Homo sapiens: one gene and its partners. The protein of the gene in region 3 purifies or fractionates together with the protein of the main gene of each other region. This does not show direct contact. Each region holds a gene or a part of one and is shown on either strand. Other genes may lie near its edges. The genes, in order: EI24, SMIM43, SLC2A1, TRIM38, XPOT, OXA1L and COQ8B.

Region 1 (3,819 bases), on a different chromosome or scaffold from region 3:
TTTGAAGTAATAAAACTTTTAGAATGCTATTATTATTGCTAAAAACTCATTTTAAAGTATATTTTACTACTGTTATCAATAAACTCATGTGGCCAGGTCATACAGCCCTCTACTTGAATATGTATAATGGGATCGGTTTTGGAAATATATATATACTCATGTGCATATATGCATGGAGAAAAGTTTGGGTTATATCCCAGAAGTGTTTCTCTCTCATTAAACCTTATATTAAGATTTTCCTACAGTAAGAATTTTTTTTTTTAAAAAGCCTCACTGACATAACTGGTGTTACAGCCCCAACCCTTTACACAGCAAAAATTTCATCACTGGCTAATACTTACTATGCTTTGCCAGGGGTCTTTGCTTCATTGGCGCTGATAATGAATAAAGGAAAGAGGATAGAGAAAAGGCAGCCACTGTTTAAAAAAAAAAAAAAGAAATAATTAGTCACCTTCATAACAGACATGACTTTGAAGAAGATATTAGAAGCTCCAAGTTCTTTTGCTTCCAGTGTAAACATTATGGCTTGATGAAACCTCAATATTTCAAACATTTTTTTTTTTGAGATGGAGTCGCGTTCTTGTCGCCCAGGCTGGAGTACAGTGGCAAGATCTCAACTCACCGCAACCTCCGCCTCCTGTGTTCAAGCGATTCTCCTGCCTCAGCCTCCCAAGTAGCTGGGATTACAGGTGTGTGCCACCACGCCTGGCTAATTTTTGTATTTTCAGTAGAGATGGGATTTCACCATGTTGGCCAGGCTGGTCTCGAACTCCTGACCTCAGGTAATCTGCCCACCTCAGCCTCCCAAAGTGCTGGAATTACAGGCGTGAGCCGTGGCACCCAGCCCATCAAACACATCTTTCAAAAAGAACAGAAGATTTTTCTAAGCACTGGGCATGTTTAACATTGCTGCAGGGCTGGGCATGGTAGCTCATGTCTATAATCTGAGCACTTTGGGAGGCCAAGGTGGGTGGATCACTCGATGTCAGGAGTTCAAGACCAGCCTGGCCAACATAGTGAAACCCCATCTCTACTAAAAACACAAAAATTAGCTAGGCGTGATGGTGGGCGCCTGTAATCCCAGCTACTTGGGAGGCTGAGGCAGGAGAATCAGTTAAACCCAGGAGGCGGAGGTTGCAGTGAGCTGAGATTACACCACTGCACTCTAGCCTGGGCGACAGAGTGAGACTCTGTCTCAAAAAAAAAAAAAAAAAAAAAAAAAAAGAATAATTGCTTCAGGAGGCAACATAGAAAAAGAATATGGGATATAGGGACATTCAGACTAGATCTTCATGCTAACAAATGTAGAAATACCCTGCAGGTCTCCTGATGGACAAATGATGATGTAGAATGCGAAACAGAACGAAGCAAACAAAAGGCACTGACTTCATGAATTTTTATTTTTACTAGTCTCCTTCAAATCCCTGTAGCCAAATTACCTGATAATATATGAGGACTGCATTGCTGTGAGAAAAGCCAAGGGCAAACCAAACCCAAAGTAGTAAGGCCAATTCCTTTCTATGTTAGACAACCGCTGGTGCATTTCAATTCCTAAAACAAGAAAGCCAATACAATTAGATATTATATTTCCTTTTAGTCAAGTGACTAAGTAACTATGGTAGACAAACCATGAGTTTTAGGTACAGATTTTATTATTATTATTATTATTATTATTATTATTATTTGAGATGGAGTCTTGCTTTGATGCCCAGGCGGGAGTGCGGTGGTGCAATCTCAGCTCACTGCAACCTCCACCTCCTGGTTTCAAGCGATTCTCCCACCTCAGCCTCCCAAGTAGCTGGGATTACAGGCGCCTGCCACCTCGCCCAGCTAATTTTTGTATTTTTAGTAGAGACAGGGTTTCACCATATTGGCCAAGCTGGTCTTGAACTCCTGACCTCAGGCGATCCACCCACCTTGGCCTCCCAAAGTGTTGGGATTACAGGTGTGAGCCACCACACCCAGCCTAGGTACAGATTTAGAACAGAGCTACAGCATATAAATTAGAAGTGTACAAATCTGATATAAAGCATGCAAAGTTTCTTAGAATTCTATAATCGTAATTTCAAAGCTGACAGGCTAAGTGAATTAAGAATTTCAGCACCAGCATCCTTTGTCAGGATTAGTCTGGAACTAAGCAAGATAGCAAATCAAAAGGATGCCATCCTGTAAGTATCAGTTAACCTCTTTCAACCACGCACACCCTGGTAAATATCTGAAGGTCTTTCTAAAACACCCCCAAAAGGATCCAGATGCTGACATCAATTTGACTTCTCTAATTTAGAGCAACTCATGCTCATTTATGCCATCTTACAACCCAGTCAGAGATATACCATGTTAAGCACCAAAAAGATAATGCCATACTACCACATCCCCCAGCCTCAAAGTTGAGAGTTAAACCCACTAAGCCGAAGGTAAGCTCCCTCTTGCCAATGAGGCTGCTTCCCTCAAAGGATTGTTTGCCAAAAGCCTGACTATGAGTAGTTTAAGAAGTCTGCTTAGCAGTAGCATTTCCAAACTGGGCCTCCATTTTCTGGATTTCTTTAGATGGACTTACCTTTATTGAACCAACGATATTCAAAGCAGTACAGTGAGTAGAGAAGGGACATATGCAGGAGACTAACCAGCTGACCGACAAGATGGATGGGAAAGAGACTCACAAACATTCCCTGAAGAACAAATATGGAAAATCTTAATCCCAAAGCCTCGGAAACCTAGCACCATTCACCTGTCACTCTCCAATCACTGTCTGAGATAGCTTCCTAGCTGCTTCTCAAGTTTCTAAAAGGCCGAGTGCAGGGTGGGCACAGTGACTCATTCCTGTAATCCCAACAGTTTGGGAGGATGAGGCGGGAGGATCTCTTGAGGCCAAGAGTTAAAGACCAGACTGGGCAACATACTGAGACCCTGTCTCTACAACAAGATTTTTAAAATGAGCATGATGGCATGTGCCTGTAGTCCCAGCTACTCAGGAGGCTAAGGCAGGAGGATTGCTTGAGCCCAGAGTTTGAGGCTGCAGTGAGGTATGATTGTGCCACTGTACTCCAGCCTAGGTGGCAAAATAAGACCCTGTCTTTTATTTATTTATTTATTTTTGAGACAGTTTTGCTCTTGTCGCCCAGGCTGGAGTGCAATGGCGCGATCTCGGCTCACTACAATCTCTGCCTCCTGGGTTCAAGCGATTCTCCTGCCTCAGCTTCCCGAGTAGCTGGGATTACAAGCATGTTGCCACCACGCGCAGCTAATTTTTGTATTTTTAGTAGAGATGGGGTTTCACCATGTTGGCCAGGCTGGTCTCAAATGCCTGACCTTAGGTGATCCGCCCACCTCGGCCTCCCAAAGTGCTGGGATCACAGGCATGAACTACTGCGCCCAGCCGACCCGTCTGTCTCTTTAAAAAAAAAAAAAAATTAGGCATAACTATAAAAAGAAAAAAAGTTTCCACCTGGCAGGACTGGAGAATAACCAGAGTAGCAGAAAAAAGCAGGTAAATTCATGTTTCTTATAATTTTATAATGTAATTTTAAAATTCTCATTTCCGTGGGGAAAAAAAGATTTAAAAATCATTACCTCCCACCAGCATATATATAATACTCTGTATAAATATAATACTCTGTCTTTGTGAAGTTCTCTCTAGTGAAACAGTTTTTCTTTTTAATAAAGCTGCCCATATGCCCAGAAGGTCAGTCTCACCTGAATGAGGAAAAGAGCCTGCAGCAAAAGGTTGAAGAGCATGTCAGCAATTATTTTGCTGACACTAGGGAATGGGTGAGGCTTCCTCCCTGATACCTCAAATGCCAGGTCAGCTATATCCTGTAA
Region 2 (3,207 bases), on a different chromosome or scaffold from region 3:
TTCTTAATGAAGTAAGAGGTTTACTTTAATTATTATGGTATGAGCAAATCCTCACCTCTTTATCAGAGTTATGGTAAGACTTGATTTGAATTCCCAGTTTGAACTCCCTGAATCAACTGCAGTGATTCTGTATTGTGCTTTGAACAATAGTTCTCTAATTGGTTGATATCTCTGCAGTGGCATTTAGTTAAAAGGTTGTATGGTTAATATGGACATTGAAGATGAGTGTGGGAGTAATTAATTAGCAATTATAGTTGTTTGTAAGGATTGAAAACAATCATTTCACACTTTAGAATAACCAGAATGGAAATTATTTTAACCACATGCTTGCCTTCTTGAGTTTACAATCCTTTAATCTTCCTAGCAGCACCACTGGTATCCATGAATTTAACCTGCCCATCATTCTTCCTAAACAAGAGACTATTGAAAAGTCAGGGTGAGTAGTTTATTACCATCTCAGTATTAATCCAATCTCTCAGCTGGTTCTACTGACTCAGGTTCCTAAGAAAGCAGGGGTGCCTTTCTATCTTGTATCCAGGGCCATTTTATTAACTCCTTGTAATCAAATTCATTAATGACCAAGTTCCCATTTATCCAGGCCACAATGAATATTTATTCCTATTACTCAACCTCTGCTTGGAACTTGACTCTAAGCTCTGGGAATTAAGGTAACTCACATTTGCTCTTAGATCTTGCTGCTGTTGATCTCCTGCCCTGCACTTGCTTTGTTAGAGACTCTGCTTTTGAAACTTTGACAGCTGTAGATGAGCTGTCTTTTGCTGTTTATTTATTTATTCAATCATCATTTTTCCAAGACCTGACATAGACTGATCTCTCAAATTAGAACTACTTTCAAACTCACAATTTTGGCCACCTTTATGCATTTTTGGCTTAGATCAAATACTCTGACACCCACAATGGTCTAGGTTGCAGGCTTCTACATGTTGGCTACTCCATCCCCTGACGATCCCCTGTTCTGACAATCACTATGTGCCAAATCTATTTTTAAAGACTGTATATATATGAGCTAGACATTAAAGCACTTGAAAAGTCAAGAACATTTAACATAACTGCTTATTATATAAATGTAACTTGATTATAGAAGATTCCTGTGTTTTATTTTCAATAAAAAGGTTTTTAGTGATTCTTCAGCAATGTTAGAAGGTGACTTGAATTTCTTACATTATAAGGAAATGAGCCATAATTCTATTATGTAATATTTGTATTTTATTTCAAATGTTATTATTTCATCATTGTTTCTAAATTTCAGGTGTTCAAAATGGCTTCAGATCTTATCAGGACAATCTTGGCTGTTGCACTAATTTCCAAACTTGTAAGTGCAATGGATCTGCAGTTCTACTTGGCAAGATAACCATTTTAAGTTGAATGAGAATGACATCACACTCACACCTGCAAAATCTAAAATGTCTAATAAAGTAGATTCCTATGTCTGAACTTCAATTTTAGGGCACAGCTGTAGATGCAGAACTGATGCCATCTGGTGCGATTCTACAGAATAAGAGAGAAAATTTACCCAGAGTGTGCCATGCACTGGCTTTTCTGGGAATGGCAAGGTGCCAGGATTTGTTTTTGGTTCGCTTGCAGGGGTGGAAACTTGGAACTAGGTGAGTAAAAAATATGAAATACTCTATTTTTAGTTTGACATTCTATATTTCCAATTTTGTCTATAGTTTCAAAATCAGTGCAATAGAGTTAAATTTTAAATGACCAAAATTTTAAAGTTTGTAAATGGTTAAACCATTTAGAATAGTGGGAAATGTTTGTTGTTTTCTAAGTCACACTTACTAATCTAGAGACTGTTAGAACACTAAAGATACTAATGTAATGCATAAGGTATCTACACAGTGCTGTACTTTGTTTTTAATTTTTACAGCTACTCTGAGATATTCGTGCATATTTAAGCTAAATCCACAATTAAAACTCTAGGATCATTAGAATGTCACTGTCAGATGTCTGTGTCACATACAAGAGAAGGTTAAGAATTGAGTTGTAAATCTTTGATGTAGTTTTTTTTTTTTGTTTGAATCAGTGAAATAAATTTCTCAGTCCTCCACTTTTTATTTTGTCTACACAAAATAAATAATGTTATGGGTTAATAATGATCTGATTAAGTATCTGAGTCATGAGCATCTTCCCATACCGGAAGGTGGATTATCAGAAGGGCGTTCAGACCCAGTAATCAGAACTTAATAAGCATGCAGAAAAAGCTTTCTGATGGATTAAGGTTAAAAAAACCTTGTTTTTTTCCTTAATAGTAGCTTTTTATATAATAAGCCCAAACATTTCTGCCATTCTTGGTCTGTATAGACAGATCCTGAAGGACATGGGTGGGTTTGAGCTAAAACCATTATCTGCGACTTTTGTTTTATTAGTATGACTCTGAAGTTACTTGAATTTATTGAATAGGTACAGATTCTTCAAGCAAGATGTCTTTTCCTTTCAGATGAAAAATCACACTTTCCTATTGGGAATCAAGATGAATTTTTATCTTGGTAATGGAATAGGAAGTTCTGGACTGAAGAGCGGCTTAAATAAATTAGAGGGTTTGTTCTTTTCTCACAGAACAAGGAGGTTAGAGGCAGGCAGCTGCTGGTGCTGGTTCAGCAGCTCACGGGTGTCAGGCTTAATTAAGGTGGCTGCTGAGGTTCCCTTGGCTTTTTCCTCCAGGTTCCAAGATGGTCCCCGCAGCACCCCACAAGAAGAAGGAGGAAGCCCACAGAGAAAACGGGGCATGCCAGTTCAAATCCACTTCCTTTTAAAGAGCTTCCTCAGCAGCCCAATAACTTTTGCCTTCATCTCATTGGCCAGAACTGTGTCATTGGCTACTGCTATCTGCAAGATTGTCTGAGAAATGTAGTTTTTGTAGCTGGATATATAACTGCCTTTGACAAAAATCCAGTTTCTCTTGATGAAGAAGAAGATGATGGTGGATCTTGGGAGGACAACTAACATTTTATGCCCTGGCTACAGAATACAGTTGCAGAGGAGCATAAAGTTCAAAAAGATCAAAACTCTAGTTCCTTCACAACTGTCAAAGCTCCAAGCAGCACTGCTCCCCTCTGACAGAGTGAGCAGAGTGAAGGCATGTCAGGTGTTCTCACAAAACTCTTGACAGGGCTGACCTCTCTCAGTCAATATCCTTGTCCCACATCAGGATTTTCTAGAGGGCCCTGGGTACCTGTGCAC
Region 3 (4,465 bases):
CCAACCCTGTTCTGTTTCTGGAAAACACCTCCTCTGTCCTGGCCTTAGAGTCCTAGTTCTGTCATTAACTCACTATGAGATCACAGTCAAGACATCATTAAATCCAGTAGCTGTCAACCTTGGCTGCACATTCGAATTGGTTGGGAAGCTTTTAATTGAATGCCCAAACAGCATCCCAGACCAATTAAATCAGAATCTGGGGGCGTTCTGGAAACCCCAATGTGCAACCAAGTGGAGAGCTCAACCTCCCTCTGTTTCCTCCCAGCCTGTCTTACAGACTTTCCATCTGTAAGGATTCCCAAAGGGAGCCAGTTCTGAAGCACACACTTTGGCAAGAGCTGTCAAGAGCACTTAGCAAATGCAGGGCTTGGGGCTGGTCCAAGCATGGGCCCACGGTCTCCATGCCCAGCAAACTTGGAAAAGTCCTGTCACCTCCCCTGCAGCTGAGCATGACTCAGCAGGCCAAGCCTTCCTGGTGACTTGCTCCTCAGCATCGGGCGTGGCCCCATAGCCACTGTCTGCCTATTTGGAAGAAGCCCAGCTAACTCTAGACACTACCTGGTTCCCCCAAACAGGACCCTGATCTTTGGGAGTCACTGCACTCACTTTCTAGCCCCATCCGTCTGGACAAGAAATGTGGTCCTGACGTGAGGACTGCCCACTCTCATTTGGTCCTCTCTGGGAAGGTACAGATTTTTAAACGGGCAAGGCAGCTGGTTAGGAAGACAACCTGAGGCCATGGAAACAACAGAGCTTGGCTTCTGACTCCAGCATTCAATAGCTTTGTGACCTTGGGCCTGTCGGCCATTTCATCTGCCTGGGCCTCAGTTTCCGGGTCTACAAAATGGAAATCACCACCCAATCTCATAAACACAAGCAAAATGCCTGGTACAGAGGAAGGGCTCAGTTTCCTTTCCTGTCCCTGCCTCCTACCCCCTACCCCCTTTTCCTCTTCTCTCCTCCTTAATGCAAGTAGGCTGGGCTGGAGGAGATGGTCTAGGTCCCTTCCCATCCTGACATTCAAGTAAACAAGTGAGGACAGATCTAGGATGCACGGCAGGGAGGAGGAAGCCAGCACAGACCTTCACCCCCTGTGGCTCCCTAGGGCAAGACGCCATTTCTGCTTTGACTGCCACAGGGCCTTCAGGGAGAGGACGCGGTTTCAACCTACAAATAAAGGAAGTGTGCTGCCTGTGGATGGGTATGAGTGCAGGCTCAAGGACCACCTGGCAGGCAGGTGTTGGATACCAGCTCTGTCTCTGACTTAGCTGGGTGATATTGGGCGGGTTTCCTCTCTCTGGCCGTTTCCCACACCTGCAGGCTGGGAGTGGTGCCTGCTGCCTCCTGACAGTGCTGCAGTGAGCATCAAGTGAGACAAGCCCATGAAAACCCTCTGCAGCCCCAGAATGCCACGGAAATGCAGCATTATTGTATTGAGCTTTGCTTTGAGTTTATTATATCATCAAACATATTATTAAATGACTGAGTTGGGTGGGGGGTTGGTCAAGAGGGCCTATACAAGACCCCAGGATTCTGTGGGACCTGAGATTCTAGAATTCTGCCACCCTGATTCCAAAGCAAGAGAAGAGTCTCTGACATGATCAGGGCCAGAAAACTGGCTGGAGAGGCAGACAGTACAGTGCGTTCATATAAATGACTCTAATTCAGGTGGTGGCGTGAGACTGTGGGCATGTGTGATGTGCAACAGAGCAGGCTGGTGTCCATAAGCCAACGATGGCACAGTACTCACCTTCTGGGGGGCATTGATGACTCCAGTGTTGTAGCCAAACTGCAGGGAGCCAAGCACTGCTCCTCCCACGGCCAGCATGAGGCGACCCGTCAGCTTCTGCGGAGAAACAAACCACACTGTTATAGGCGTGTCTGGGAGCAGGTTACTACAGGGCAGGGCCTGGACTGGCAAGTTTCTGTGTTCAGATATCTTGCCTGACTCTTGGCACCACACCAGTCTTTCTCCCAGGAAACTTGGCCAATTCCTGACCTTAGGTGCCCAAACCAGCCTAGCTGACTTCAAGATACTGGGCTGGCCGGGCCATTTCCTGGGGAGAGAGGGGAAGTATGATCTTCTCTCTCTGTAGCCAGGTCTCAGAGAGGGAGAGGCTTTGGATTCTTGGGGGTCTCATTTCCCTGGTGGAGCCATGCCTAGGGTCTGGTGGTTCTAGACTCTCTGACTGGGAGGCCCAGGAACCAGCCCTCCTATGCGAGGGGGCCCAAATTACTTGGTAGGAATAGCACAGATATAGATAGGAGAAGCACCCTGGATTTGGAGCTGAAGCCGCTGGCTTCTGATTCCAGCCCATCTGCCTGTTTGCTCTGTGAATTCCAGCAGGCTAAGTCCCCCATGTACCACCTCTCCCCTATCCTCCATTTGCTTGTCAGCAAAATGGCAACAGCTTCGTTTGTCACATTGGAGATGTGATCCCACCTTGCCCTACCCTTCCTGCTGTTCACAGGGCAGGAAACTGAGCCCTGAGAGGGTGAGGCAAGTTCCAGATCACTCAGGAGCCTGCAGCAGAGCTCAGGGCTCCGGACTCCTTACCCAGTGCTCCTCACGGCAATAATCCCCAAACCATAAGCCTCCCAAGGTTATATGGACATAGACGACATGCTAGGCGGGAATGCACTTTGGAAAAGTGCACAAGGTGAGTAAGAGTGTGGGGCTAAGGTGTTTCCAATGGGCAAAGGGATGGGAGAGAAAAAGAGCAGTTTGCTTCTGTCCATTGGAAGCCGAGGACCTAAGGCAGCAGGAAGGGCAGAGGCCAGCAGGTGAAGAGCCCTGCTTAGCCACAGGTGACTGAGAGGCCAGCAGGGTGTCAGCCCTGCTGAAGAAAAGTGCTCTTTTCAGCTATAAAAATGAGGAAGTCAGGAAATGTGACATTAGGCAGGCCTTTAACTGATTGTGGGAGAACAGGGCTGCGGGAGGCATGCCAAAGAAACGACTGGCATTCACTACGCACACTATACCAAGCTGGGCCCTGGAAGTGGGTGGAGCTGGCCATGGCCTGGCTGTGGGTCTCTGGGCCTTGGTTTCCACAGAACCCAGAAGCAGCCTTTACTTCAAGATCATCACAGATAGCCCTGGGCATAGCTGTTACCAGGCATATTCCCAGTATGGTCTTTTCATTCTCTGAAAGCGTCAGTCAGGGCAACGACTGCAAAAGCCAAGGCTCTCACATCAGAGGCTGCGAAAGAGGAAGAAGGCTTCGGCCCAGGAGGAGTGTGCAGCTCAGAGCCCCCTCTGTGTGTGCGCTGCATCCTTCCTTCCCATTAGTCTGTCTACCTGACCCCTTAGCCTGCCTCTGGACATTTATTCCACATGCTGGGGCTTCCCTCATACCACAGGGACTCCATTCCCTCTAAATCCTCTGCATTGCCCAACTAGAAAGACAGCCCCCACCCCCCGTATGTCCTGGCACTGCCCCCAGAATCTCCCTTCTCTCAATTCTCTGGGGAGCCTTCAGGCCCAGAGCTGTTGTTCCGAGTGGGTAGTGAGCAGCTGACAAATTTCTGGGGGACCCCAGCGACACACCAGGTCAAGCCTAATTCATAGGGTGGACACTAATTCAGAGGCTGTGGCAAGGCACTAAGCATCACCAGGAGGGCTCACTAAACAGCGACTGCTAGGCCCGCCACGTGCTGGGCTTTCTGCCTGCGGTATTACCTGCATTTGCTCATGGGATGCAAAGTATATACTGTATTTTTCTGGAACACATTAGAATAGATTAAAAAACAAGCAATGCAGTGACATCAATCTATCATTTAAGAAAACGTGGCATAGTGATATAATGGAATACATAACCTGGGAGTTCGAGGCCGCAGTGAGCTGTGATCACCCCATGGCACTCCAGCCTGGGTGACAGAGTGAGACTCTGTCCCAAAAAACAAAAGCGAAACCAAAAACAGAGCAGTGTGTATATTGTATGCTACCTTTTGGGTTAAAAAAAAAAATTGGCTGGGGGTAGGGGGAGAATATACACATCTATTTAAAAGAATGCACAAGAGGCTAGGCACGGTGGCTCACATCTATAATCTCAGCTTGAGGCCAGGAGTTCGAGACCAGCCTGGCCAACATGGCAAAACCCTGTCTCTACTAAAAATACAAAAATTAGCTGGGCATGGTGGTGCGTGCCTGTAGTCCCAACTACTTGGGAGGCTGAGGGACAAGAATCACTTTATCTGGGAGATGAAGTGAGCCGAGATGGCGCCACTGCACTCCAGCCTGGGCGACAGAGCAGACTCTGTCTCAAAAAAAAAAAAAAACAAAAAACAAAAAACAAGAATGTACAAGAAAGGTAACATTCTAACCCCGGGGGGGCCTGGGTGACTGGGGACAGGGTGAAAGGGAGATTTCATTTTATAGCCTTTGGCACTTTTTTGAATTCTGAATGGTGTGAATGGAATCACCTATTCAAAATAATTTTTACAAGCCCTGTGATTTCATATTACT
Region 4 (4,465 bases), on a different chromosome or scaffold from region 3:
ACATATAATATGTATAGTTGCAAATATAAAATTTGGTTTGTTATTTATATTATTTTGTGCAGGAGTTCTATATCTATGTCTATAAGCGGGAGCCATAATTTTCTATTCTTTGTAGGATTTGGTATGAGATTGGCATTACTCATGCCTTGACTTCTAAATTTCCTATAAAACTGACAAGTTCCATTTTTGCTTGATAAAGATGCACGTTTTATTATCTGTCGGTAAAATTTAAAGTAGTGATTTCATTTCTTTAATGTTAGGTCTGCCCATGCTTTATTTGTTTTTTGAGTGAGTTTTACTCAGAAATATTTTTTCTAGGAAGTAATAATTTTATCAGTACTTTCAATTTTATTAGTAGCATAAGATTTATTATAAAGTTCTGTAATATTTAAAAAGTTTCTGTATTCATTCCATTTGTGCCTTCTGTCTTACTTTGATAAATCTCATTGGAGGTATGTCTATTTTATTAAATTTCTTTTAAAAGAAGCTACCTTTTTTTTTGTTTGTTTTTCCTCTTTATTGCATTCTTGTTTTCTTTAACTTCACTGTTATATTGTTTAATATCTATTTTTTCTTTTTAAAAAATTATATTTGGCTTTCTATGTTCTTTTTAAAATTTAAATTAGATGCTTGGCTCATTAATGTTCAGCTTTTTAATTTTTCTAAGATAAGCATTTAAAGCCTACAAATTTTCCTTAAAATTCTGCTTTAGCTTCATTGTATATTTTTATAAATAACTTTTTATTATTGTTCCATTCTATACATCTTCTAATGACTTATTAGTAGTTTACATTTCCTAATATTTAGAATCTTTTTAGTCATCTTTTTATTATTGGTTTATAATCTTATATTGAGGCTAGAGAAAATGATCTGTGTAATACAGATTTATTGAAACTTGTTCAGACTGTTTTCTGCCTAGTATTTACTCAGTTAGTGCATGTTCCATCTATACCTGAGAAAACTGCATATTCTCTGCTTACTATTATTAAACAATTGCTGAGCTTTATGTATTGACTATGAGATTGCGCTTCTTAGATTGTTCAGACCTTCCGTATCTTCCCTTATTTCTTTCTTTTGGTCTGCCTGATCTATCAATTATGGAAAGAAGAATGTTAAAACATCCCATGATGATTGTAGATTTGTCCATTTCTCCTATAATTCTACAATTTTTGCTTTGTATATTAACACAATTCTAAACATGAATTCACTAATAATGTAGTACATTTATGTTTAAAATTGTGTTATCTTTTTTAGGTGACTCCTTTCATTCTTTCTTTTTTTTTTTTTTTGAGACAGAATCTCTCTCTGTCACCCAGGCTGTAGTGTAGTGGCGAAATCTCAGCTCACTGCAACCTCTGCCTCCCCGGTTCAAGTGATTCTTGTGCTTCAGCCTCCCAAGTAGCTGGGATTACAGGCATGTGCCACAATGCCCAGCTAATTGTTGTATTTTTGGTAGAGCCAGGGTTTTGCCATGTTGGGCAGGCTGGTCTTGAACTCCTGGCTTCAAGTGATCCGCCTGCCTTGGCCTCCCAAAGTGCTGGGATTACAGGCATGAGCCACCACACCTGGCCCTTCTTCCATTCTTAATAATGCTCTGACTTAATATCTTTTGATATAATACTATAACAGTATATGACTATATTATCTATCTTTTAGCTTCCAATCTTTCTATATGTTTTTGTTGATGTGTCACACCAATAGATAGGTGGAATTTTAAAAATCCAATTGATATTTTTTCTCTTAAGTGGTATTACCACCCCGTAAACATTTTAATTTCTCAACATGGGTTTTCCTGGGTCATTCAGGTAATATGAATTGAAACCCCAAACTTCTGTGAGTCAGGCTGATAAAAGCTAACTGAATAGAGTTTGAAAAAGGAGGGTATTTACAAAGGTGAGGAGTTGGGAAATCCACAAGGAACAGGAAGCACCCAGAACTAGGAACAGTTAGAGAGCCATCACCTCCTCTGGGCCTCAAGTGGCAGGTGTAGGGAGCTGTAACTATACTAGAGTGTGCCCAGAGGCAGAGGAATGCAGACCCTCCAAATCATAGCGTGGGACTGGGGTACTGAATACTCCCAAGGCTGCTTCTTTGTGCCCTATGGTCTCCTCTGGTGCTTCCCATTGGCTGAACCAAGCCAGAGGGCGGAAAGCCTGGTTAATCTGTCCATGTCAGCCTTCCTGGGCACAGAGCAAGACAGGGAAAAGTGAGGGATTATTTGGAAGAACAAACAGAGAGCATCCAGCACAGGAAGTGTTTCTGAATACTTGAATTCCTTAATTGTCACAGACCAACTGATCAACATTTAACTCAGTAGCACAGTGGTTTCTTAACTCTCTTGTTAGAACATCCTATTACCATTTTTTATTTTTAAAACTGCATACTGTTCAGTATCTCACTTTAGGTTATCAGATCTTTTTTCTGTCTTGTTTGATTCTAGTCTGATATTTTTCATGTATATTGGTCCTCAGTGTATTATTATCTCATACTAATGCTTATGGAACATTATCTGAGGGGAAAGAGAAGAGCTTACAATTAAAAGTCATGGGACTAGGCATGTGTCATGAGACCTGGGTCTTCCAATAACAAGCTAAGACATTAGCTGAGTCATTTTCCCTCTCTGATTCTCAATGTTGGTGGTTATTCAGTAGAGAAGGGAAAAGGTATCTTTCTGCTCAACTGTCTCATGATTCCTGGAAGTCCTGCATGGGAGAAGAACTTTGGACAGGATGGTAACCATATTAACAGGTTAGTTCTGTACCTTGGCATCCTTGAATAATTAAGACGAAGATGATGTTGATGATATCATTATTACTACATGTTGTTAGAAGAGCTGAAGCAGGACTGGCTTGTCTGTCATAATGTAAAAGAGTCTTGGAAGATGTCCGGGGTCCAGGGTCCAAAACCCCTCGTGGCCTTTGGAACACCAAGCTCTGTGCCAAATGGTGGAAGGCTGCCCTGCCGCACCACAAATCTAAGCCTAGGGCATAAAACCCCTTGTGGCTTGGATGGAACCCAGGGCTCAGGGCATAAAACCCCTCATAGCCTCTGGAAAGTGCACAGACTTGTTGGTTCCTTGCTTTTCACTCATAAACGTGTCCTCTACTATCTCAAGCAGCAGAGTATATTCTACATGTGTCAAAGAAAATGCTAAACTGTCACAGCTACGCTTAATGCACCACTACCTTTCTACCCCCATGTCCTCATGCCCTCACCTGTTTACCCTCACGTCCTCACCACCTGCTTCTTTGTTTGATCACCAATAAATAGTGTGGGCTCCCAGAGCTTAGGGCCTTTGCAGCCTCCAATCTAGTGCTGGCACCCTGGACCCACTTTATGCACTCTTAACTTGTCTTTTCTCATTCCTTTGACCCCGCCGGACTTTGTAGCCCCCACGGCCTGGTGTTGGGCCTGATCACCCCAACAACTACCACTTATTAGGTGGTTACCATGTACCAGGAATTTTACCAAGCATTAAGCAAACATAAGCTTATTCAATCCTACCCACCATTCTCTGCAACAAATACGGTAATTTCCACTTTATAGTTAACAAACTGAGGCTCAGAAAGTTAAATGATTTGCCTAAGCTCACCCAGTTTATAAGAAACAATAGTTGGGTTTGAACACAGGCTGGTTTTATTGAAAATAACTTGTGGCTGGGCATGGTGGCTCACACCTGTGTAATCCAGCACTTTGGGAGGCCGAGGTGGGTGGAACACTTCAGGTCAGGAGTTTGAGACCAGCCTGGCCAACATGGCGAAACCCCATCTCTACAGAAAATTTAAAAAAATTAGCCACTTGTGGTGGTGCGCACCTGTAGTCGCAGTTACTCCGGAGGCTGAGGCAGGAGAATTGCCTGAATCCAGGAGGTGGAGGTTGCAGTGAGTTGAGATAGTGCCAGTGCACTCCAGCCTGGGTGACAGCAACACTCCATCTCAAAATAAAATAAAATAAAATAACCTGTGTTCTTCACAGCAACAAAATTATTTTTGTTTGTTTTGTTTTGTTTTGCAGTTAGTGTGACTCTGGATCCAGATACAGCTCATCACGAACTAATTCTCTCTGAGGATCGGAGACAAGTGACTCGTGGATACACCCAGGAGAATCAGGACACATCTTCCAGGAGATTTACTGCCTTCCCCTGTGTCTTGGGTTGTGAAGGCTTCACCTCAGGAAGACGTTACTTTGAAGTGGATGTTGGCGAAGGAACCGGATGGGATTTAGGAGTTTGTATGGAAAATGTGCAGAGGGGCACTGGCATGAAGCAAGAGCCTCAGTCTGGATTCTGGACCCTCAGGCTGTGCAAAAAGAAAGGCTATGTAGCACTTACTTCTCCCCCAACTTCCCTTCATCTGCATGAGCAGCCCCTGCTTGTGGGAATTTTTCTGGACTATGAGGCCGGAGTTGTATCCTTTTATAACGGGAATACTGGCTGCCACATCTTTACTTTCCCGAAGGCTTCCTT
Region 5 (4,465 bases), on a different chromosome or scaffold from region 3:
AAAAGAAATCATGGCACATTTAAAAAAATTGGATGCTGGAACTTAAGAGGCAAAGAAAATGCCTCTTTCATCCAAAAATTGGATGCTGGAACTTAAGAAATGAAAGATTTCAAGAGGCACATAAAAATAACAGTAAAGGCCATTTAATAACTAAACATACAGTCAAAGGCTTTTAATTACAAGCATGCAATACCAAGCTAGACTAAAGGTAAAGATCTATGATACTTCAACTATGTTTGAAGGTAGGTAGCATAAAACCCTATGACAAGAAAGATTTGTTTACACACAGAAGACATGGATTTTAAATGTCTTTTGATGTCCTAACTTGTTTGATAGGTATCTTGTAATTAGCCAGATACTTAAATCTCAATTCCTATTATTTTCCTGTATCTGAAGGGCTCGTTACTTATTTAGTAGCAGAGACATGCACATGGTACTGTATTAGAAACTAGTTGGGATTGTTTTTTACTGCTTTAAAAGATTTTTTTCTTAAAATAAGAATAAAAACTGCTATAATTTTTAGTGAGATTGTTAACCTCATTTAGCTCATTTATAAAAAGTATTCTTTGCTATGAAAAGTAAAAAGAAAATGCCTCTTTCCTTTCCACTTACCCTATAGTTCCAAATGCCCACGTCTTTAAAAAAAATTAATTATAGGCTCATTCTTTATATTTTTCTATCATTCAGCTATAGTCATGATTATAGTTGTAGGCTACATTATATTTAATTGTTTACATTTATCCAACTATCCCAGCACTTTATAATGGATTCTTGTCATGTAACCATTTTACTTAAGACATAACCTATCATAACTGCTTATTTATGTCTGCCTAGACCAAATAACAAGAAAGTTAAATATCACTAATGTGGCCGGGCAGGGTGACTCATGCCTATAATCCTAGCATTTTAGGAGACTGAGGTGGGCAGATCGCTTGAGCTCAGGAGTTCGAGACCAGCCTGGGCAAGATGGTGAAACCCTATCTCTAGAAAAAAATTAAAATAAAAAAAAAATCATTAAGGTAAGTGTTAAAACAGCTTGTATAGATCAAGCCAAGGAAAGAGAAAATAAAATACACATGTCTGCTGCTATGGAAAGTCTCTTAAACGAATCCTTTGCATTACAATTTTTAAATAATTAGAAATAATGACTGATGTTGCATAAAGATCTGCCTTGAATCATATGAGATTTTAATACTTTTGTTTGGCCAAGTAAACAGAAAATAAATCACAACACTCACTGTTTCTATATTCAAAATATATTCAAATACCTCAAATTTTTTTGTTTCTGTTCATTTCTACCCAAAGTAAACTTTTGCCAGGTGCATTTTTATTCAAGTCCTCTAATGCCAATCTGTGGTGACATGATTAAAAAATGATTCAGCAGAGTAACTTACCCTTTGTCTAAAGTCTGAATCAGCATTTGGATTTAGCCCTAATAGAGCCTGTTCATCCATCCTCGCTGTTATACTTGTAGTTTTCTGGTTGTAATAGGCGTGCCCTCTGATCCCACAGAAGAATTTATAAACATCTGCCACAAAAAACAAAGTTGAAAGAAAACATTACTTGATAAACAAATAGATGCTTATCCTGAATAACGTAAATGGATAAAATCATGCAAAGAAGCTTAAATGTTTAAAAACTTATTTTGGAACTTATCTAAATTACAACTAAAAGTTAGAGCCTAATTCTCAGAAAAATGGGCTCTGCTAACTACTCCACTAATGTGTAATTCCTAAAAATCTGATTTTTTTTTTTGAGACGGAGTCTCACTCTGTTGCCCAGGCTGGAGTGCAGTGGCACCGTATCAGCTCACTGCAAGCTCCGTGTCCCAGGTTCACGCCATTCTCCTGCCTCACCCTCCCGAGTAGCTGGGACTACAGGCGCCCGCCACCGCGCTGGGCTAATTTTTTGTATTTTTAGTAGAGTCAGGGTTTCACCGTGTTAGCCAGGATGGTCTTGATCTCCTGACCTCGTGATCCGCCCGCCTTGGCCTCCCAAAGTGCTGGGATTACAGGCATGAGCCACCCCACCTGGCCCCTAAAAATCTTAAAGTATGCCATAAAGGTCCTCAAGCTTTCTTAGTCTTCAAGATCTTCTTAATAAGGTATAGAAAGTAATCATTTTCTACTTTAAATAGTAGAAGTACCTAATTTATGCAGTGTTTTACTTATCTCTAGTACTTAAAAATGCAATTGTGCAACTGCAGTTAAGTATAAAAATGACAAATGCAGACTATTACAGTAATTATAATAATTTGTCTACTTCCAGATACAAATATCACAAACCTTCTTTAAAACATTAGAATGGCTGACCTCAGAGTTCAATATCCTTTGGAGTGTTTACTAAGTACTATGACAGAAGTCTAATGAAAGGAACAGGATAATGAAAAACCAGTCATTTAGCTTTTGAGCAATGGACTTAGTTTTGCATTTTACAGATCTCTGCTCTTGCCAGCCAATTCTAAAAATTTCAAAAAAAAAAAAGTTTTTCAATAGTAGATACAAAAACCCACAAACCAGCCAGCTACAGTGGCTCACACCGGTAATCTGAGAACTTTGGGAGGCTGAGGTGCGCAGATCACTTAAGGTCAGGAGTTCAAGCCAGCCTGACCAATACGGTGAAACCCTGTTTCTACTAAAAAGACAAAAATCAGCCAGGCTTGGTGGCACATGCCAGTAATCCCAGCTACTCGGGTGACTGAGGCACAAGAATCGCTTGAACCCAGGAGGCAGAGGTTGTAGTGAGCCAAGATTGCGCCACTGCACTCCAGCCTGGAGAACAGAGTGAGATTCCATCTCAAAAAAAACAAAACACACAAAAAAAAATCCACAAATGACTTAACACTGACTACTCTTATTTAAGGATTTTTTTTAATCTCTGAGAGGTAATCCACTTCTTCACAATATAGGTTCCAACATTCTCAAATAATAAGCTGCAAAAGGCATCCTAGTTTTTGATAGAATGCATATTCATTTGAGCAAACATGGAACAAACTCTAAATGATGTGAAAAATGATATTATTCTCTCAAGACCTATAAGGTAGGGAGACCAAGTCTTACTACTTCCATTAAACGCTGTGGGGGGCCAGGCGTGCTGGCTCATGCCTGTAATCCCAGCACTTTGGGAGGCCGAGGCAGGTGGATCACTTGAGGTCAGGAGTTCAAGACCAGCCTGGCCAACATGGTAAAATCCCCTACTAAAAATACAAAAAAATTAGTGGAGCATGGTGGCACACACCTGTAATCCCAGCTACTTGGGAGGCTGAGGCAGGAGAATCGCTTGAACCCAGGAGGTGGAGGTTGCAGTGAGCTGGGATCACGCCACTGCACTCCAGCCTGGGTGACAGAACGAGACTCTGTCTCAAAAAAAACAAAAAAAGGCTGTGGGGCTTTTTGTTTCAATTACCGTTAACCAAAGACGCCAAAAAACTAATTGGATTGGGGGTAGGGGAGAAAAGCCTTTTGGGAATAGCAGGGGTAGGGGAGAAAGGCCTTTTGGGAATAGCAAAACCAGGCTCAGGTCCAGGTTACAGGATACCTACAATAGGCTTTTCTGTTTTCCTCTGAGCCTGCCTGAATCAAATAACTCAGGATATGGACTGAGAGCTTTGAAGACAGCTCAGCCCTTTCTCTTATGGTTCATAACGTACTTGCAGACTTCAAGGCAGTGTAACTCCCTACTGCCCTCAGATTACGATCCAAACACTTTTGAATAACTCCTCACTATTCTGCACACCAGGTCAGCAAGGCCAGTGCTAGTGAACCATATGGCAGTTCTCCAGTGGTATTCTACCTTTCATCTTTGCACACTGCTCTTTCTTCTTGTTAGTAGGTTAACCCCTGCTGTCCTTTGAAATTCAACTTAGAAGCCATCTCTTTCAAGAACACTTCTTTGACCTCTATTGTCCAACTCTCCCAAATTGGATTACATGCCCCATCCTAAGCACTGCTATGCTGTCACTGCCAGCTTACTAGTTTTCTCTCATTAATCTTTTTTTTTTTTTTTTGAGACAGTCTCACTCTGTTGCCCAGGGTGGAGTGCAGTGACATGATCTCGGCTCACTGCAGCCTCTGGCTCCTGGGTTCAAGTGATTCTTCTGCCTCAGCCTCCCAAATAGCTGAGATTACAGGGGTGAGCCACCACACCCGGCTAATTTTTGTATTTTTTAGTAGAGATGGGGTTTCACCATGTTGCCCAGGCTGGTCTCGAACCCCTAATCTCAGGTGATCTGCCAGACTCGGCCTCCCAAAGTGCTGGGATTACAGGTGTGAGCCACCCGGCCATTTCTCACAATCTTAAAGGGCAAGGACTGTCTTGACTATCCATCACTATGTCCCTAGGACATAGTAGAGCATAGGTTTTGGATTTCAAAGACCTGGGTTTGTATCCCCATCTTGTCATTTTTTAATTGGGGCCACTTGGACAACTTACAAAACCTGAGAGAACCCTTTCTATGACATGGGAA
Region 6 (4,820 bases), on a different chromosome or scaffold from region 3:
ACAGTGATACTATCAACTCCCTCATCGGCATTGCCATTGCCCTCTCAGGCCTGCCCTTTTACTTCCTCATCATCAGAGTGCCAGAACATAAGCGACCGCTTTACCTCCGAAGGATCGTGGGTAAGCCGTGCATCCTTAAGTCCGCTCAGCTATTGCAGAGCTTGGTTTTTGCCTTTTTCTGTAAATCCAGCCTCCAAAGACATCTTTGCCTTAGCCCCTTCTTATGAACCCTTCGGCTTAGTGGAATCACTCCCCTCACACTGAGTTCCATTCAGTGACACTTGAACTCAGCCCAGCTGACCTCTTCTCAATTCCAACTCAAAGTTCTCTTTGTAGGGTCTGCCACAAGGTACCTCCAGGTCCTGTGTATGTCAGTTGCTGCAGAAATGGATTTGGAAGATGGAGGAGAGATGCCCAAGCAACGGGATCCCAAATCTAACTAAACACCATCTGGAATCCTGATGTGGAAAGCAGGGGTTTCTGGTCTACTGGCTAGAGCTAAGGAAGTTGAAAAGGAAAGCTCACTTCTTTGGAGGCACCTGTCCAGAAGCCTGGCCTAGGCAGCTTCAACCTTTGAACTTACTTTTTGAAATGAAAAGTAATTTATTTGTTTTGCTACATACTGTTCCAGACTTTTAAAGGGGACAATGAAGGTGACTGTGGGGAGGAGCATGTCAGGTTTGGGCTTGGTTGTTTTAGAAGCACCTGGGTGTGCCTACCTACTCCTCTTTTCTTTTAAAAGGGCCCACAATGCTCCAATTTCCTGTCTCCTTTAGAGAGACATGAAACTATCACAGGTGCTGGATGACAATAAAAGTTTATGTTCCTAAAGTCTGAGTGGCTTCATTTTATATAGTATCTATCTCTAGGACAGCTCCCATTAGCCTAGAAACACAAAGACTAAAATCAATCTTATGCTTGAAAGTATATCCATCTTTTCTCTCTCAAGCTAGCTGCTGAAGGCTGATAAACCAGGCTCTACACAAAGGCAGACAACAGAACACTTAAACTGCTCTAGTCAAATGTTGGATTGTTACATAAAAATGACATGAACTTCCTTTTTGAGACAGGATCTTGCTCTGTAGCCAAGGCTGGAGTATAGCAGCATGATCTTGGATCACTGCAGCCTCAACCTCCTGGGCTTAAGCTATCCTCCCACCTCAGCCTCCCAGGTAGCTGGGACTATGGACAAGCACCACCATGCTCAGCTAACTTTTTAGCAGAGACAAGGTCTCGCCATGTTGCCCAGGCTGGTCTCAAATTCCTGGACTCAAGTGATCTACCCACCTCAGCCTCCCAAAGTGCTGAGATTATAGGTGTGAGCCACTTTGCCCAGCCTGGAACTTTCATTCTTAATTATCACTAAGAATTTGCACACATCTACTTCTTGAAATTTTTAAAGTAATCTTGGGATCAAGAAGTGCGGTTACTATATTTAGATACAATCTCAACATTCAACTTATCAGCCACACCTCTAGACTGCAATCCAAATGTGCATAGAACAACACATGCATGGGTTGGAAGTTTAAACTGTTTTTTTTTTTTTTTTTTTTTTTTTTTTTTTGAGAAGGAGTCTCACTCTCTTGCCCAGGCTGGAGTGCAGTGGCGCAATCTCGGCTCACTGCAAGCTCTGCCTCCTGGGTTCACGCCATTCTCCTGCCTCAGCCTCCCAAGTAGCTGGGAATACAGGCACCCGCCGCCATGCCCGGCTAATTTTTTTTTTTTTTTTTTTAGTAGAGACGGGGTTTCACCATGTTGGCCAGGATGGTCTCGATCTGCTGACTTCGTGATCCGCCCGCCTTGGCCTCCCAAAAGTGCTGGGATTACTGGCGTGAGCCACTGCGCCTGGGTGGAAGTTTAAACCCTTAATGCCAGGTTAAAACATTATATTTTCCAAGGCCATGGGCCAGCAAAAGCAATCATGACTCACTCTATTCTTCAGTTTTCTTTTTTTTTTGAGACAGTCTCCCTCTATTGCCCAGGCTGGAGTGCGGTGGTGCGATCTTGGCTCACTGCAACCTCCGCCTCTCGGATTCAAGCAATTCTCCTGCCTCAGCCTCCCGAGTAGCTGGGACTACAGGTGTGCACCACCACGTGTGGCTATTTTTGTAAAACAGCAGAGATGGCGTTTCCCCATGTTGGCCAGGCTGGTCTCAAACTCCTGATCTCAGGTGATCCACCCACCTCGGCCTCCCAAAATGCTGGGTATTCTTCAGTTTTCTGAAGTGCACACTGATTTCCCTGTTCAATAAGTATCAGGAAGCAGCATGTAGTACAGAGGTTTACTAACTCTGTGAATGGGAAGATCACTTGGCTACCCAGTGCTCTCTTATAAACATAAGTACAAGAGTGTTTCATGAAATCCGTTTTTAAAATGAACATCTCTGTGTGCCACAGTTCCTAGGACTGGGGCAAGGACACAGTGTCAAGTCTTGTTTTGAGGATGAGTCTCTGAAGAGACAGAATTCCTGCCAGAATGCGCACAGAACATAAGTCAGCCAAGTGTGTCGTGCCAGGGATACTTTGACTTTGGTTTGCTGCTGCTGCTAGGGATATTGGGAGGGTTATCCTTTCCAGGTTGTAGGAGAGGGTTGTGGGTAAAGGTCTGTCGTAAAGGACCTGAGGGGAGAAGAGAAAACAAATTTCAACGAAGAACAGAAAGGAAGAAACAAAAGACAGAATTTGGCCTGAAAGGACTATTTACCCCTGGCTGCTAGCTCCAACTGATTCCGCATGCGTTGTTCACGCTCTCGCAGCTGACGCGTCATTTCAGCATTTTTCCAGCCTGTGTAAAGAGAAGCAAGAGAGTCAGTTGCATTCCTATTTTTAGACCCCTTTCCCTAGTCCTTTTTCACAGAGGATGAGCCCTTACCTTTTTTGAAGCTCTCTAGGAAGCCTTCCCGTGGAGGTAATTTGTCCAGGTCATGTACAACACGCTGGGGGATTTTAAGTACAGTGCGTACTGCTGGAATCCGGAGACAGGATACTTGGACCAGGGAAAACAAATTGGAGGAGAGCCAGTACATAAACACTGCCTGGGTGAGAACACAGAGAAGGGACTCAGAAGCTGTATCCCTGGTCAGCTTGCTAGGTGGCTAGGCTAGGCAGAAGGCCTTGGAGCCAGCCCATAAGGCATTACATACCGTGGGGAAATGCATGGTTATGGGCAAGGTTATCAGGGGCATCATTCTGATGACATTTCTCATCCACTGAAGGTCAGAACTTTGCACACCTGTCTCAGCACCTAGCTGCCAAAAGAAGTGGGGTGGAAAAGTCGGGAAAGCTGTCAGTTTCAGTGAATCTGTCTCTAATCTCTTACCCATCAACTCTTTCTCCAGCAAGTGAAGGATGACCATTCTGTACAACTACTTTACCCTCCAACCCCAGTTCACTTTGCAGGCCTGGCACTTGGCCAATCTGGGCTTACCTCAAGAACAGCCCACATTGTAGCAGTGACTGCCAGTGGTAATATGTAGATGGGATCGGATACCGTGAGATCCTGGAACCACCAGAGGCCACCTGTCTGCAGGCTGGGCACAGGAAGGTTGGCCATCTCTCTCAAAGCAATGAAGAAGGAGATGAAGATTGGGGCCTATTACACAAGATAAACAGTGTCAGCATGCTTTACCAGAGAGAACATTTTCATCACCCCACTACTGAAAGCCATGTATAATCCACCACCACCTGTTTTTTGGGGGACCTGGGACACATGAAACACAGAGAGGAAATTTCATGGGTACTGGATGAAATAAGGAAGGAAATGTTTTTGCTCACCTGAGTCACAGGGAGAATGAGAGGTTTATAGAGTTTAATACCATGTTTTTTCTGGTAAAGTGCCATCTCCGAGGAAGCCTTGTAATCTGTGAGGTGAGGGGAAATTAATGGTTGGGGTAACAGTTACATCAGTGGAGGTGAACATCCTCATTATCTACCTGGCCTGTGAAATTTCTAACCAACCCTGGCCACTCCTTGGGAGCATTAGGTCTAAGAAACAGATAAACCTTTAGAACTTTCCCGACTGTGGCAACTTCTGATTTACATTGTTCCTTTCCCCCAGCAGAATGTAAGGAAAAGTGCAAATGTGGACTTCTCCCACGCTCATTCTGCAACTGACTCACACTCAATATGGTCTCCTGCTAACTTGGCCTCTCTGATTCGACTGGAAAACTTCTGGATCTCTGGCAAGTGATTGTGGATCCTGGCTGCCTCTCGCTGGCCCGTCACGATGAGAGGAAAAATCAGGCAGCGGGCAAAGACTGTACCTGGAAAATACAAACTAGGATTGGAGTGAAATTAAAGCAGTTCTGCAGCTAGAAGGTTGAAGGCTTTTAGGTCCTTACTGAAAGGGTCTTATTCTTGCCTTGTCCATTCTATGACTCATGCCTAAGAGGCCCAGAAATAAGGTCAGGGGAATGAATTAGTTGCTTTAAGGCTCAGTTCTCTAATTTGGCATCACAAAAGTATGGCATTAACTTCTCTAAGCAGATGATTAGGAATCCTGTTTGTTTCCTCAAACAAAAAGCTGACAGGAGTGGATTTAGCAATTATGTTACTGGCAGTTCGAATGAGGTGATATGAGTAAAAGCCAGACGGCTGAGGGAGTAAATGGAAAGAAGTAGGCTAATTGGATGCAGAGCAGTCTTTTAAGTAACAGCTATCAAAAGAATGAAACCCAGTCATCTGTGACAACGTGGATGGAACTGGAGATCACTATGTTAAGTGAAATAAGGCAAGCACAGAAAGACGAACATCGCCATGTTCTCACTTATTTGTGAGATCTAAAAATCAAAACAAATGAAATCATGGGCAGAGAGTAGAAG
Region 7 (4,465 bases), on a different chromosome or scaffold from region 3:
GGTGTGATCAGGGCGGGATACACAGGAGGCTCCACGTGGATGGGGAGTATTTTTTTTTTTTTTTGAGACGGAGTCTCACTCTGTTGCCCAGGCTGGAGTACAATAGCACAATCTCGGCTCACTGCAACCTCCACCTCCCAGGTTCAAGCCATTCTCCTGCCTCAGCCTCCCAAGTAGCTGGGATTACAGGCACGCACCACCGCACCTGGCTAATTTTTGTATTTTTAGTAGAGACGGGATTTCACCATGATGGCCAGGCTGGTCTCAAACTCCTGACCTCATGATCCACCCACCTTGGCCTCCCAAAGTGCTAGGGTTAGAGGTGTGAGCCACCACGTGTGGCCGGATGGGGAGTATTTTATATTTTAGGCTGGGTGGCAGGATTTGTGAGTATTCATTTTACTTTTCTATATCTTTTATTATTCTCTGGATTTTTTTTCTGGGTCTAAAATTTGTTATTGCATAAACAATTAGAACTAAAAGAAAAAAAAGCCTTCAGCTAGGGGGTCGGTTGGAAACGGGAGATGAGGCCAGGAGCCCAGTGAGGCAGCCAGGCAGGGACTCTGGCAGGAGCAGGCAGGGTCATGGGGAGGGAGACAGATCCTGGCTGCCCCAATAGACAGTGAGGGTGTGAATGGGATCCCAGCATTCCTTTCACCATTCCTTGCTTCCAGGTGACCCTGCTGGACTTTGGTGCAAGCCGGGAGTTTGGGACAGAGTTCACAGACCATTACATCGAGGTGAGTCTCCCCCAGACCCCAGGGCCTCTGAAAGGCTGAGGCTCAAGCCATATACTGAGGCAGAGGAGTAAGAAGGCGAAATGCAGTTTCTGGAATTAAGAAATAATAAATAATAGTAATACTCGTAGCAACTAGCACACACCAAGCACTTAATATGTCAGGCTCCATCTTTAGTGCTTACGTATAGGAACCGATATAAACCACACAGCAACACAATGCGAAAAGGACCGTTTTTAGGCCCGTTTTAGGCCAGATGAAGTAACTGGGTCCTGGAGGGGTTAAGTCACGTGCCCAAGATCACAGCAGACTTGGGATTCAAATTCAGGTGGTCCAGGTCCAGAGCCCAAGCTTCCAACCACTGCCCAGCTCCCTCCTAAGAGAAAGGCCCACAGTGACCATCTTGTCACCTCTCCAGACCCCATGCTGTCCAGGGCCCTGGTGTCCAGCCCAGGTGTGTGTCCCTGGGGGCAACTCTGTCTACAGGAGGTGTTTCCTCACGTACTTGGCTCGTCTCTCCCACCCACTGGGGTCAGTTTGTCTTAGAGGCTGCAGAGAATACCATTTCATTCGTTGTTGAGATTGGACATTTGCCCTGGGTCCTCTAATCATGTAGCCATCAATCTAAACGTTTTCTTTTCCTTTTTTTTCTTTTCTTTTTTTTTTTTTTAATTGAGACAGAGTCTTGCTCTGTCGCCCAGGCTGGAGTGCAGTGGCTCGATCTTGGCTCACCACAACCTCCACCTCCTGGGTTCAAGCGATTCTCCTGCCTCAGCTTCTCGAGTAGCTGGGATTACAGGCATGTGCCACCACGCCCGGCTAATTTTTGTATTTTTAGTAGAGATGGGGTTTCACCATGTTGCCCAGGCTGGTCTCGAACTGCTGACCTCAGGTGATCCTCCTGCCTTGGCCTCCCAAAGTGCTGGGATTACAGGCATGAGCCCTCCTGCCCAGCCAATCTAAATGTTTTCTGACCCCTCCTCTGTGCCCAGCTCTATTCTAGGCAAAGCTGGAGACACAGCAGTGACCTGGGCCCAGCCTAGGCCCCTCCTCACAGAACTCATAGTCAGTGAGGCGACAGTGAGGACCTAGCATGGACAGGGCTGGGATGGGGGAAGCGCAGGGCACTGTGAGCCCAGAGGAGGAGCCTGAGCCAGCCTGGGGAGCCAAGGAGGGCTTCCCGGAGGAGGGAGTGTCAGCATTGAGACCTGAGGGATGAGGGGGGCCAACTGGGAAAAGGCTCGGAGGGTATTTCAGATAGACAACATGTGCCAAGACGAGGCAGTGATAAGGGACAGTCCCATTAGAGCAGCATTTCTCAGACTTGGATGTGCATGTGAAGCCTGGTGATCCTGTGCAAGTGCAGATTCTGGTCTGGAGGTGGGTGTAAGATGCTATGTTCTGACACGCACCCATGTGAGGCCAGGGCTACCCGTATGGGGACCACACTGGTAGTAGTAAGGCCCTAGAGCACCCAAAGGAAGCTCCCATTCTGAGTGGGAGGGCAGGTCGGGGGGCAGCACAGTGACGAGGCTGCAGCAAATCACTGCGGATTTTAGAGGCTGCGCTCTACAGCTCGTACTGTATCCAGGTGCCCTGCGGAGCCGTGGAAAAGATTTGAGCAGGGAAGGGATGCAGTCAGAATTTGAAAACTCCCTCTGAATAAGAAGTGGTCTCTAAGCCTGGGGGTGGGAGCTCAGGGCAGCTGTGGAGAGGGGCAGAGGGGTGGCTGGGAGATGCCCAGCTGGCAGTCCATGGGAGCAGACGGGCTAGAAGTTGGGGACAGAGGTGTCTAGGGGTCTGGTCTGGGGACTGGTGGGGCCACCTCTGAGACAGGAACAGGAAGAGGAGGTGATAACCCCTTACACACAGGCCCCTTGGGGCCCTCTCTGCCGGCCACTGAGGCACAAAGCTGAGACCCTTCTTCTCCCCACTGACACCCTCCCCTCCCACCCAGGCCTGCAGCCTTTGCCACTTTATAAAAGCCCTGGCTTCTGAGGACCACAGGCCTGACAGATGGCCAGACATGCTCGGGCAGGGGGAGCAGAGAGGGAATGGAATTAATCCCGAATCCCCCTCCTCACAAAAAAGGGCAACCCAGTAGTGAGTGGTGTGACCCGGTTCCACTCCCTACTCCGGGTCTGCTTCCCCTTCTGTGAAATAGGGACCCCCGTGCCCACCTCTTAATAATGGTAGATTATAGTATTTACGGTGCTTCCTGCATGAGACACAGCGCCAGGCAGGCCACAGGCATCACCTTCTTTATCCTCCCAACAGCCCCATGAGGAAGGCACTTTTGGCATCCCCACTTCACAGATGAGAAAGTGGAGGCCCAACAGGCCGGCAGGTGGCAGAGCTGGGACGGAACCCTAGCCAGCTGGCCCCAGCTGGGCATCTCTCCATGCCCACAACTCCTGCCCTGTGTGTGTGAGCTCATGGCTGGAGAGCTGCTCTGCTCCACACGCTCATTTGCTAAAGCAAGGTTCACCCAGGGCCTCCTCAGCACCAGACCCTGTGCCCCGTGCGACTAAACCCAACTGGGATCCTTGCTCTCACGGGGCTCAAAGTCCAGTGTGGGAGACAGAGAGATGGCCCCTGGCAACTTTGGATGCAGTTCTGGGTCACGCTCATACCCGTCCAGTTGAGTGTTTGGACTCACCAGCAGCCCTGACACTTGTTTCTTGCACTGTTTCACTGTGGCAGTTCCCGGGCAGGCCCCACATTGCCCTCTAGGTGGGCAGGATCCCTAACCACCTCCACTCCCAGGCTCTGGAAGAGTCTTTAAGGGAGTCACAGACAGGCAAAGTTGGGAGCAGGAAGCTTCCAGGTGAGGGAGGGCCCAGGCAGATGAGAATGGAGGTGGGTACATGGGAGGCCCAGGCTTCCAGCTCCTCTTCTCCAGAGCCCCCTTGAGCCCCGGCCTTTGTCCCTCTAACTCCCACCCGTCTCCCCAGGTGGTGAAGGCTGCAGCTGATGGAGACAGAGACTGTGTCCTGCAGAAGTCCAGGGACCTCAAATTCCTCACAGGCTTTGAAACCAAGGTGGGGAGACACTGGGGGAGAAAGGGGCTGGTGTCTGTTGGTGGGGTGCAGTGGGGGGCTGCTTATCTCCACTGAGGAACTCGAGTAGGTGATGGGGCATGTCGATACCCGGGGACTGGGGGACTCTAGGAGGGGCTTGTCTCCACTAGGGAGAATGGAGGCTGTGTGTCTATACCTGGGGAGTGGGTGACTCTAGGAGGGATGCTTATCCATGCTGGGGGCTTTGGGGAGGAGTGGGGGGAGGTGGCTGCCTGACTTCTCAGGAACCCTGGGAACATGGGCACCGTGGATCTGTTCAGGAGGGGCGAAGGCCGCTTCTCTGTTGTAGAGAGAGTAGAGGGCTACTTGTCTGTTGGAGGCTCTGCAGGGAAGTAAGGGGTGCTTACTCGGGGAATAGGCAGCTGCTTGTCTAGTCCAGGCTCTGGAAGGAGTGGAAGCTGCTCACTCTTGGGGGAGTCGGGGCTTGTGTTGATGGTGGAGACTGGAGGGAGTGGAGGCTACACGTTGTTTCTGGGTTATGCAGAGGGCTCTATGTCCACACTGGCTGCCTTTGCTCTCCCCCCACCCCCACTCCCAGGCATTCTCCGACGCCCACGTGGAGGCAGTGATGATCCTGGGGGAGCCTTTCGCCACCCAGGGCCCTTATGACTTTGGGTCGGGGGAAACGGCCCGCCGCATACAGGACCT

Evidence for each region.
Region 1: the proteins of SLC2A1 (region 3) and EI24 purify together in Homo sapiens (affinity purification with mass spectrometry; one large-scale study listed by BioGRID and IntAct). This does not show direct contact.
Region 2: the proteins of SLC2A1 (region 3) and SMIM43 purify together in Homo sapiens (co-immunoprecipitation; one study listed by IntAct). This does not show direct contact.
Region 4: the proteins of SLC2A1 (region 3) and TRIM38 purify together in Homo sapiens (affinity purification with western blotting; one study listed by BioGRID). This does not show direct contact.
Region 5: the proteins of SLC2A1 (region 3) and XPOT purify together in Homo sapiens (affinity purification with mass spectrometry; one large-scale study listed by BioGRID and IntAct). This does not show direct contact.
Region 6: the proteins of SLC2A1 (region 3) and OXA1L purify together in Homo sapiens (affinity purification with mass spectrometry; one large-scale study listed by BioGRID and IntAct). This does not show direct contact.
Region 7: the proteins of SLC2A1 (region 3) and COQ8B purify together in Homo sapiens (affinity purification with mass spectrometry; one large-scale study listed by BioGRID and IntAct). This does not show direct contact.

What each region holds. Positions count from the first base shown.
Region 1 is NC_000011.10:125,578,943-125,582,761, reverse strand, and holds part of EI24 (etoposide-induced protein 2.4 homolog), read right to left. Parts: intron 3,814-3,819; coding exon 3,694-3,813; intron 2,670-3,693; coding exon 2,558-2,669; intron 1,552-2,557; coding exon 1,440-1,551; intron 417-1,439; coding exon 342-416; intron 1-341. UniProt on the Homo sapiens protein: Acts as a negative growth regulator via p53-mediated apoptosis pathway. Regulates formation of degradative autolysosomes during autophagy.
Region 2 is NC_000004.12:121,759,956-121,763,162, reverse strand, and holds part of SMIM43 (small integral membrane protein 43), read left to right. Parts: intron 1-364; 3' UTR 365-436; intron 437-1,270; 3' UTR 1,271-1,333; exon of another isoform or gene 1,334-1,467; 3' UTR 1,468-1,625; intron 1,626-2,688; 3' UTR 2,689-3,207. UniProt on the Homo sapiens protein: Required for mesendoderm differentiation. Interacts with glucose transporters and promotes glucose uptake. Probably augments the glucose uptake capacity of glucose transporter proteins to meet the energy needs of mesendoderm differentiation.
Region 3 is NC_000001.11:42,941,476-42,945,940, forward strand, and holds part of SLC2A1 (solute carrier family 2, facilitated glucose transporter member 1), read right to left. Parts: intron 1,847-4,465; coding exon 1,751-1,846; intron 1-1,750. UniProt on the Homo sapiens protein: Facilitative glucose transporter, which is responsible for constitutive or basal glucose uptake. Has a very broad substrate specificity; can transport a wide range of aldoses including both pentoses and hexoses.
Region 4 is NC_000006.12:25,979,150-25,983,614, forward strand, and holds part of TRIM38 (E3 ubiquitin-protein ligase TRIM38), read left to right. Parts: intron 1-4,014; coding exon 4,015-4,465. UniProt on the Homo sapiens protein: E3 ubiquitin-protein and E3 SUMO-protein ligase that acts as a regulator of innate immunity. Acts as a negative regulator of type I interferon IFN-beta production by catalyzing 'Lys-48'-linked polyubiquitination of AZI2/NAP1, leading to its degradation.
Region 5 is NC_000012.12:64,407,025-64,411,489, reverse strand, and holds part of XPOT (exportin-T), read right to left. Parts: intron 1,529-4,465; 5' UTR 1,455-1,528; coding exon 1,395-1,454; intron 1-1,394. UniProt on the Homo sapiens protein: Mediates the nuclear export of aminoacylated tRNAs. In the nucleus binds to tRNA and to the GTPase Ran in its active GTP-bound form. Docking of this trimeric complex to the nuclear pore complex (NPC) is mediated through binding to nucleoporins.
Region 6 is NC_000014.9:22,769,233-22,774,052, reverse strand, and holds the end of OXA1L (mitochondrial inner membrane protein OXA1L), read right to left. Parts: intron 4,263-4,820; coding exon 4,119-4,262; intron 3,861-4,118; coding exon 3,775-3,860; intron 3,593-3,774; coding exon 3,428-3,592; intron 3,249-3,427; coding exon 3,144-3,248; intron 3,036-3,143; coding exon 2,873-3,035; intron 2,786-2,872; coding exon 2,705-2,785; intron 2,620-2,704; coding exon 2,495-2,619; 3' UTR 1,011-2,494; downstream 1-1,010. Other genes in the region: SLC7A7 (Y+L amino acid transporter 1), read left to right, coding at 1-120, 337-443.
Region 7 is NC_000019.10:40,692,264-40,696,728, reverse strand, and holds part of COQ8B (atypical kinase COQ8B, mitochondrial), read left to right. Parts: intron 1-674; coding exon 675-740; intron 741-3,691; coding exon 3,692-3,778; intron 3,779-4,355; coding exon 4,356-4,465.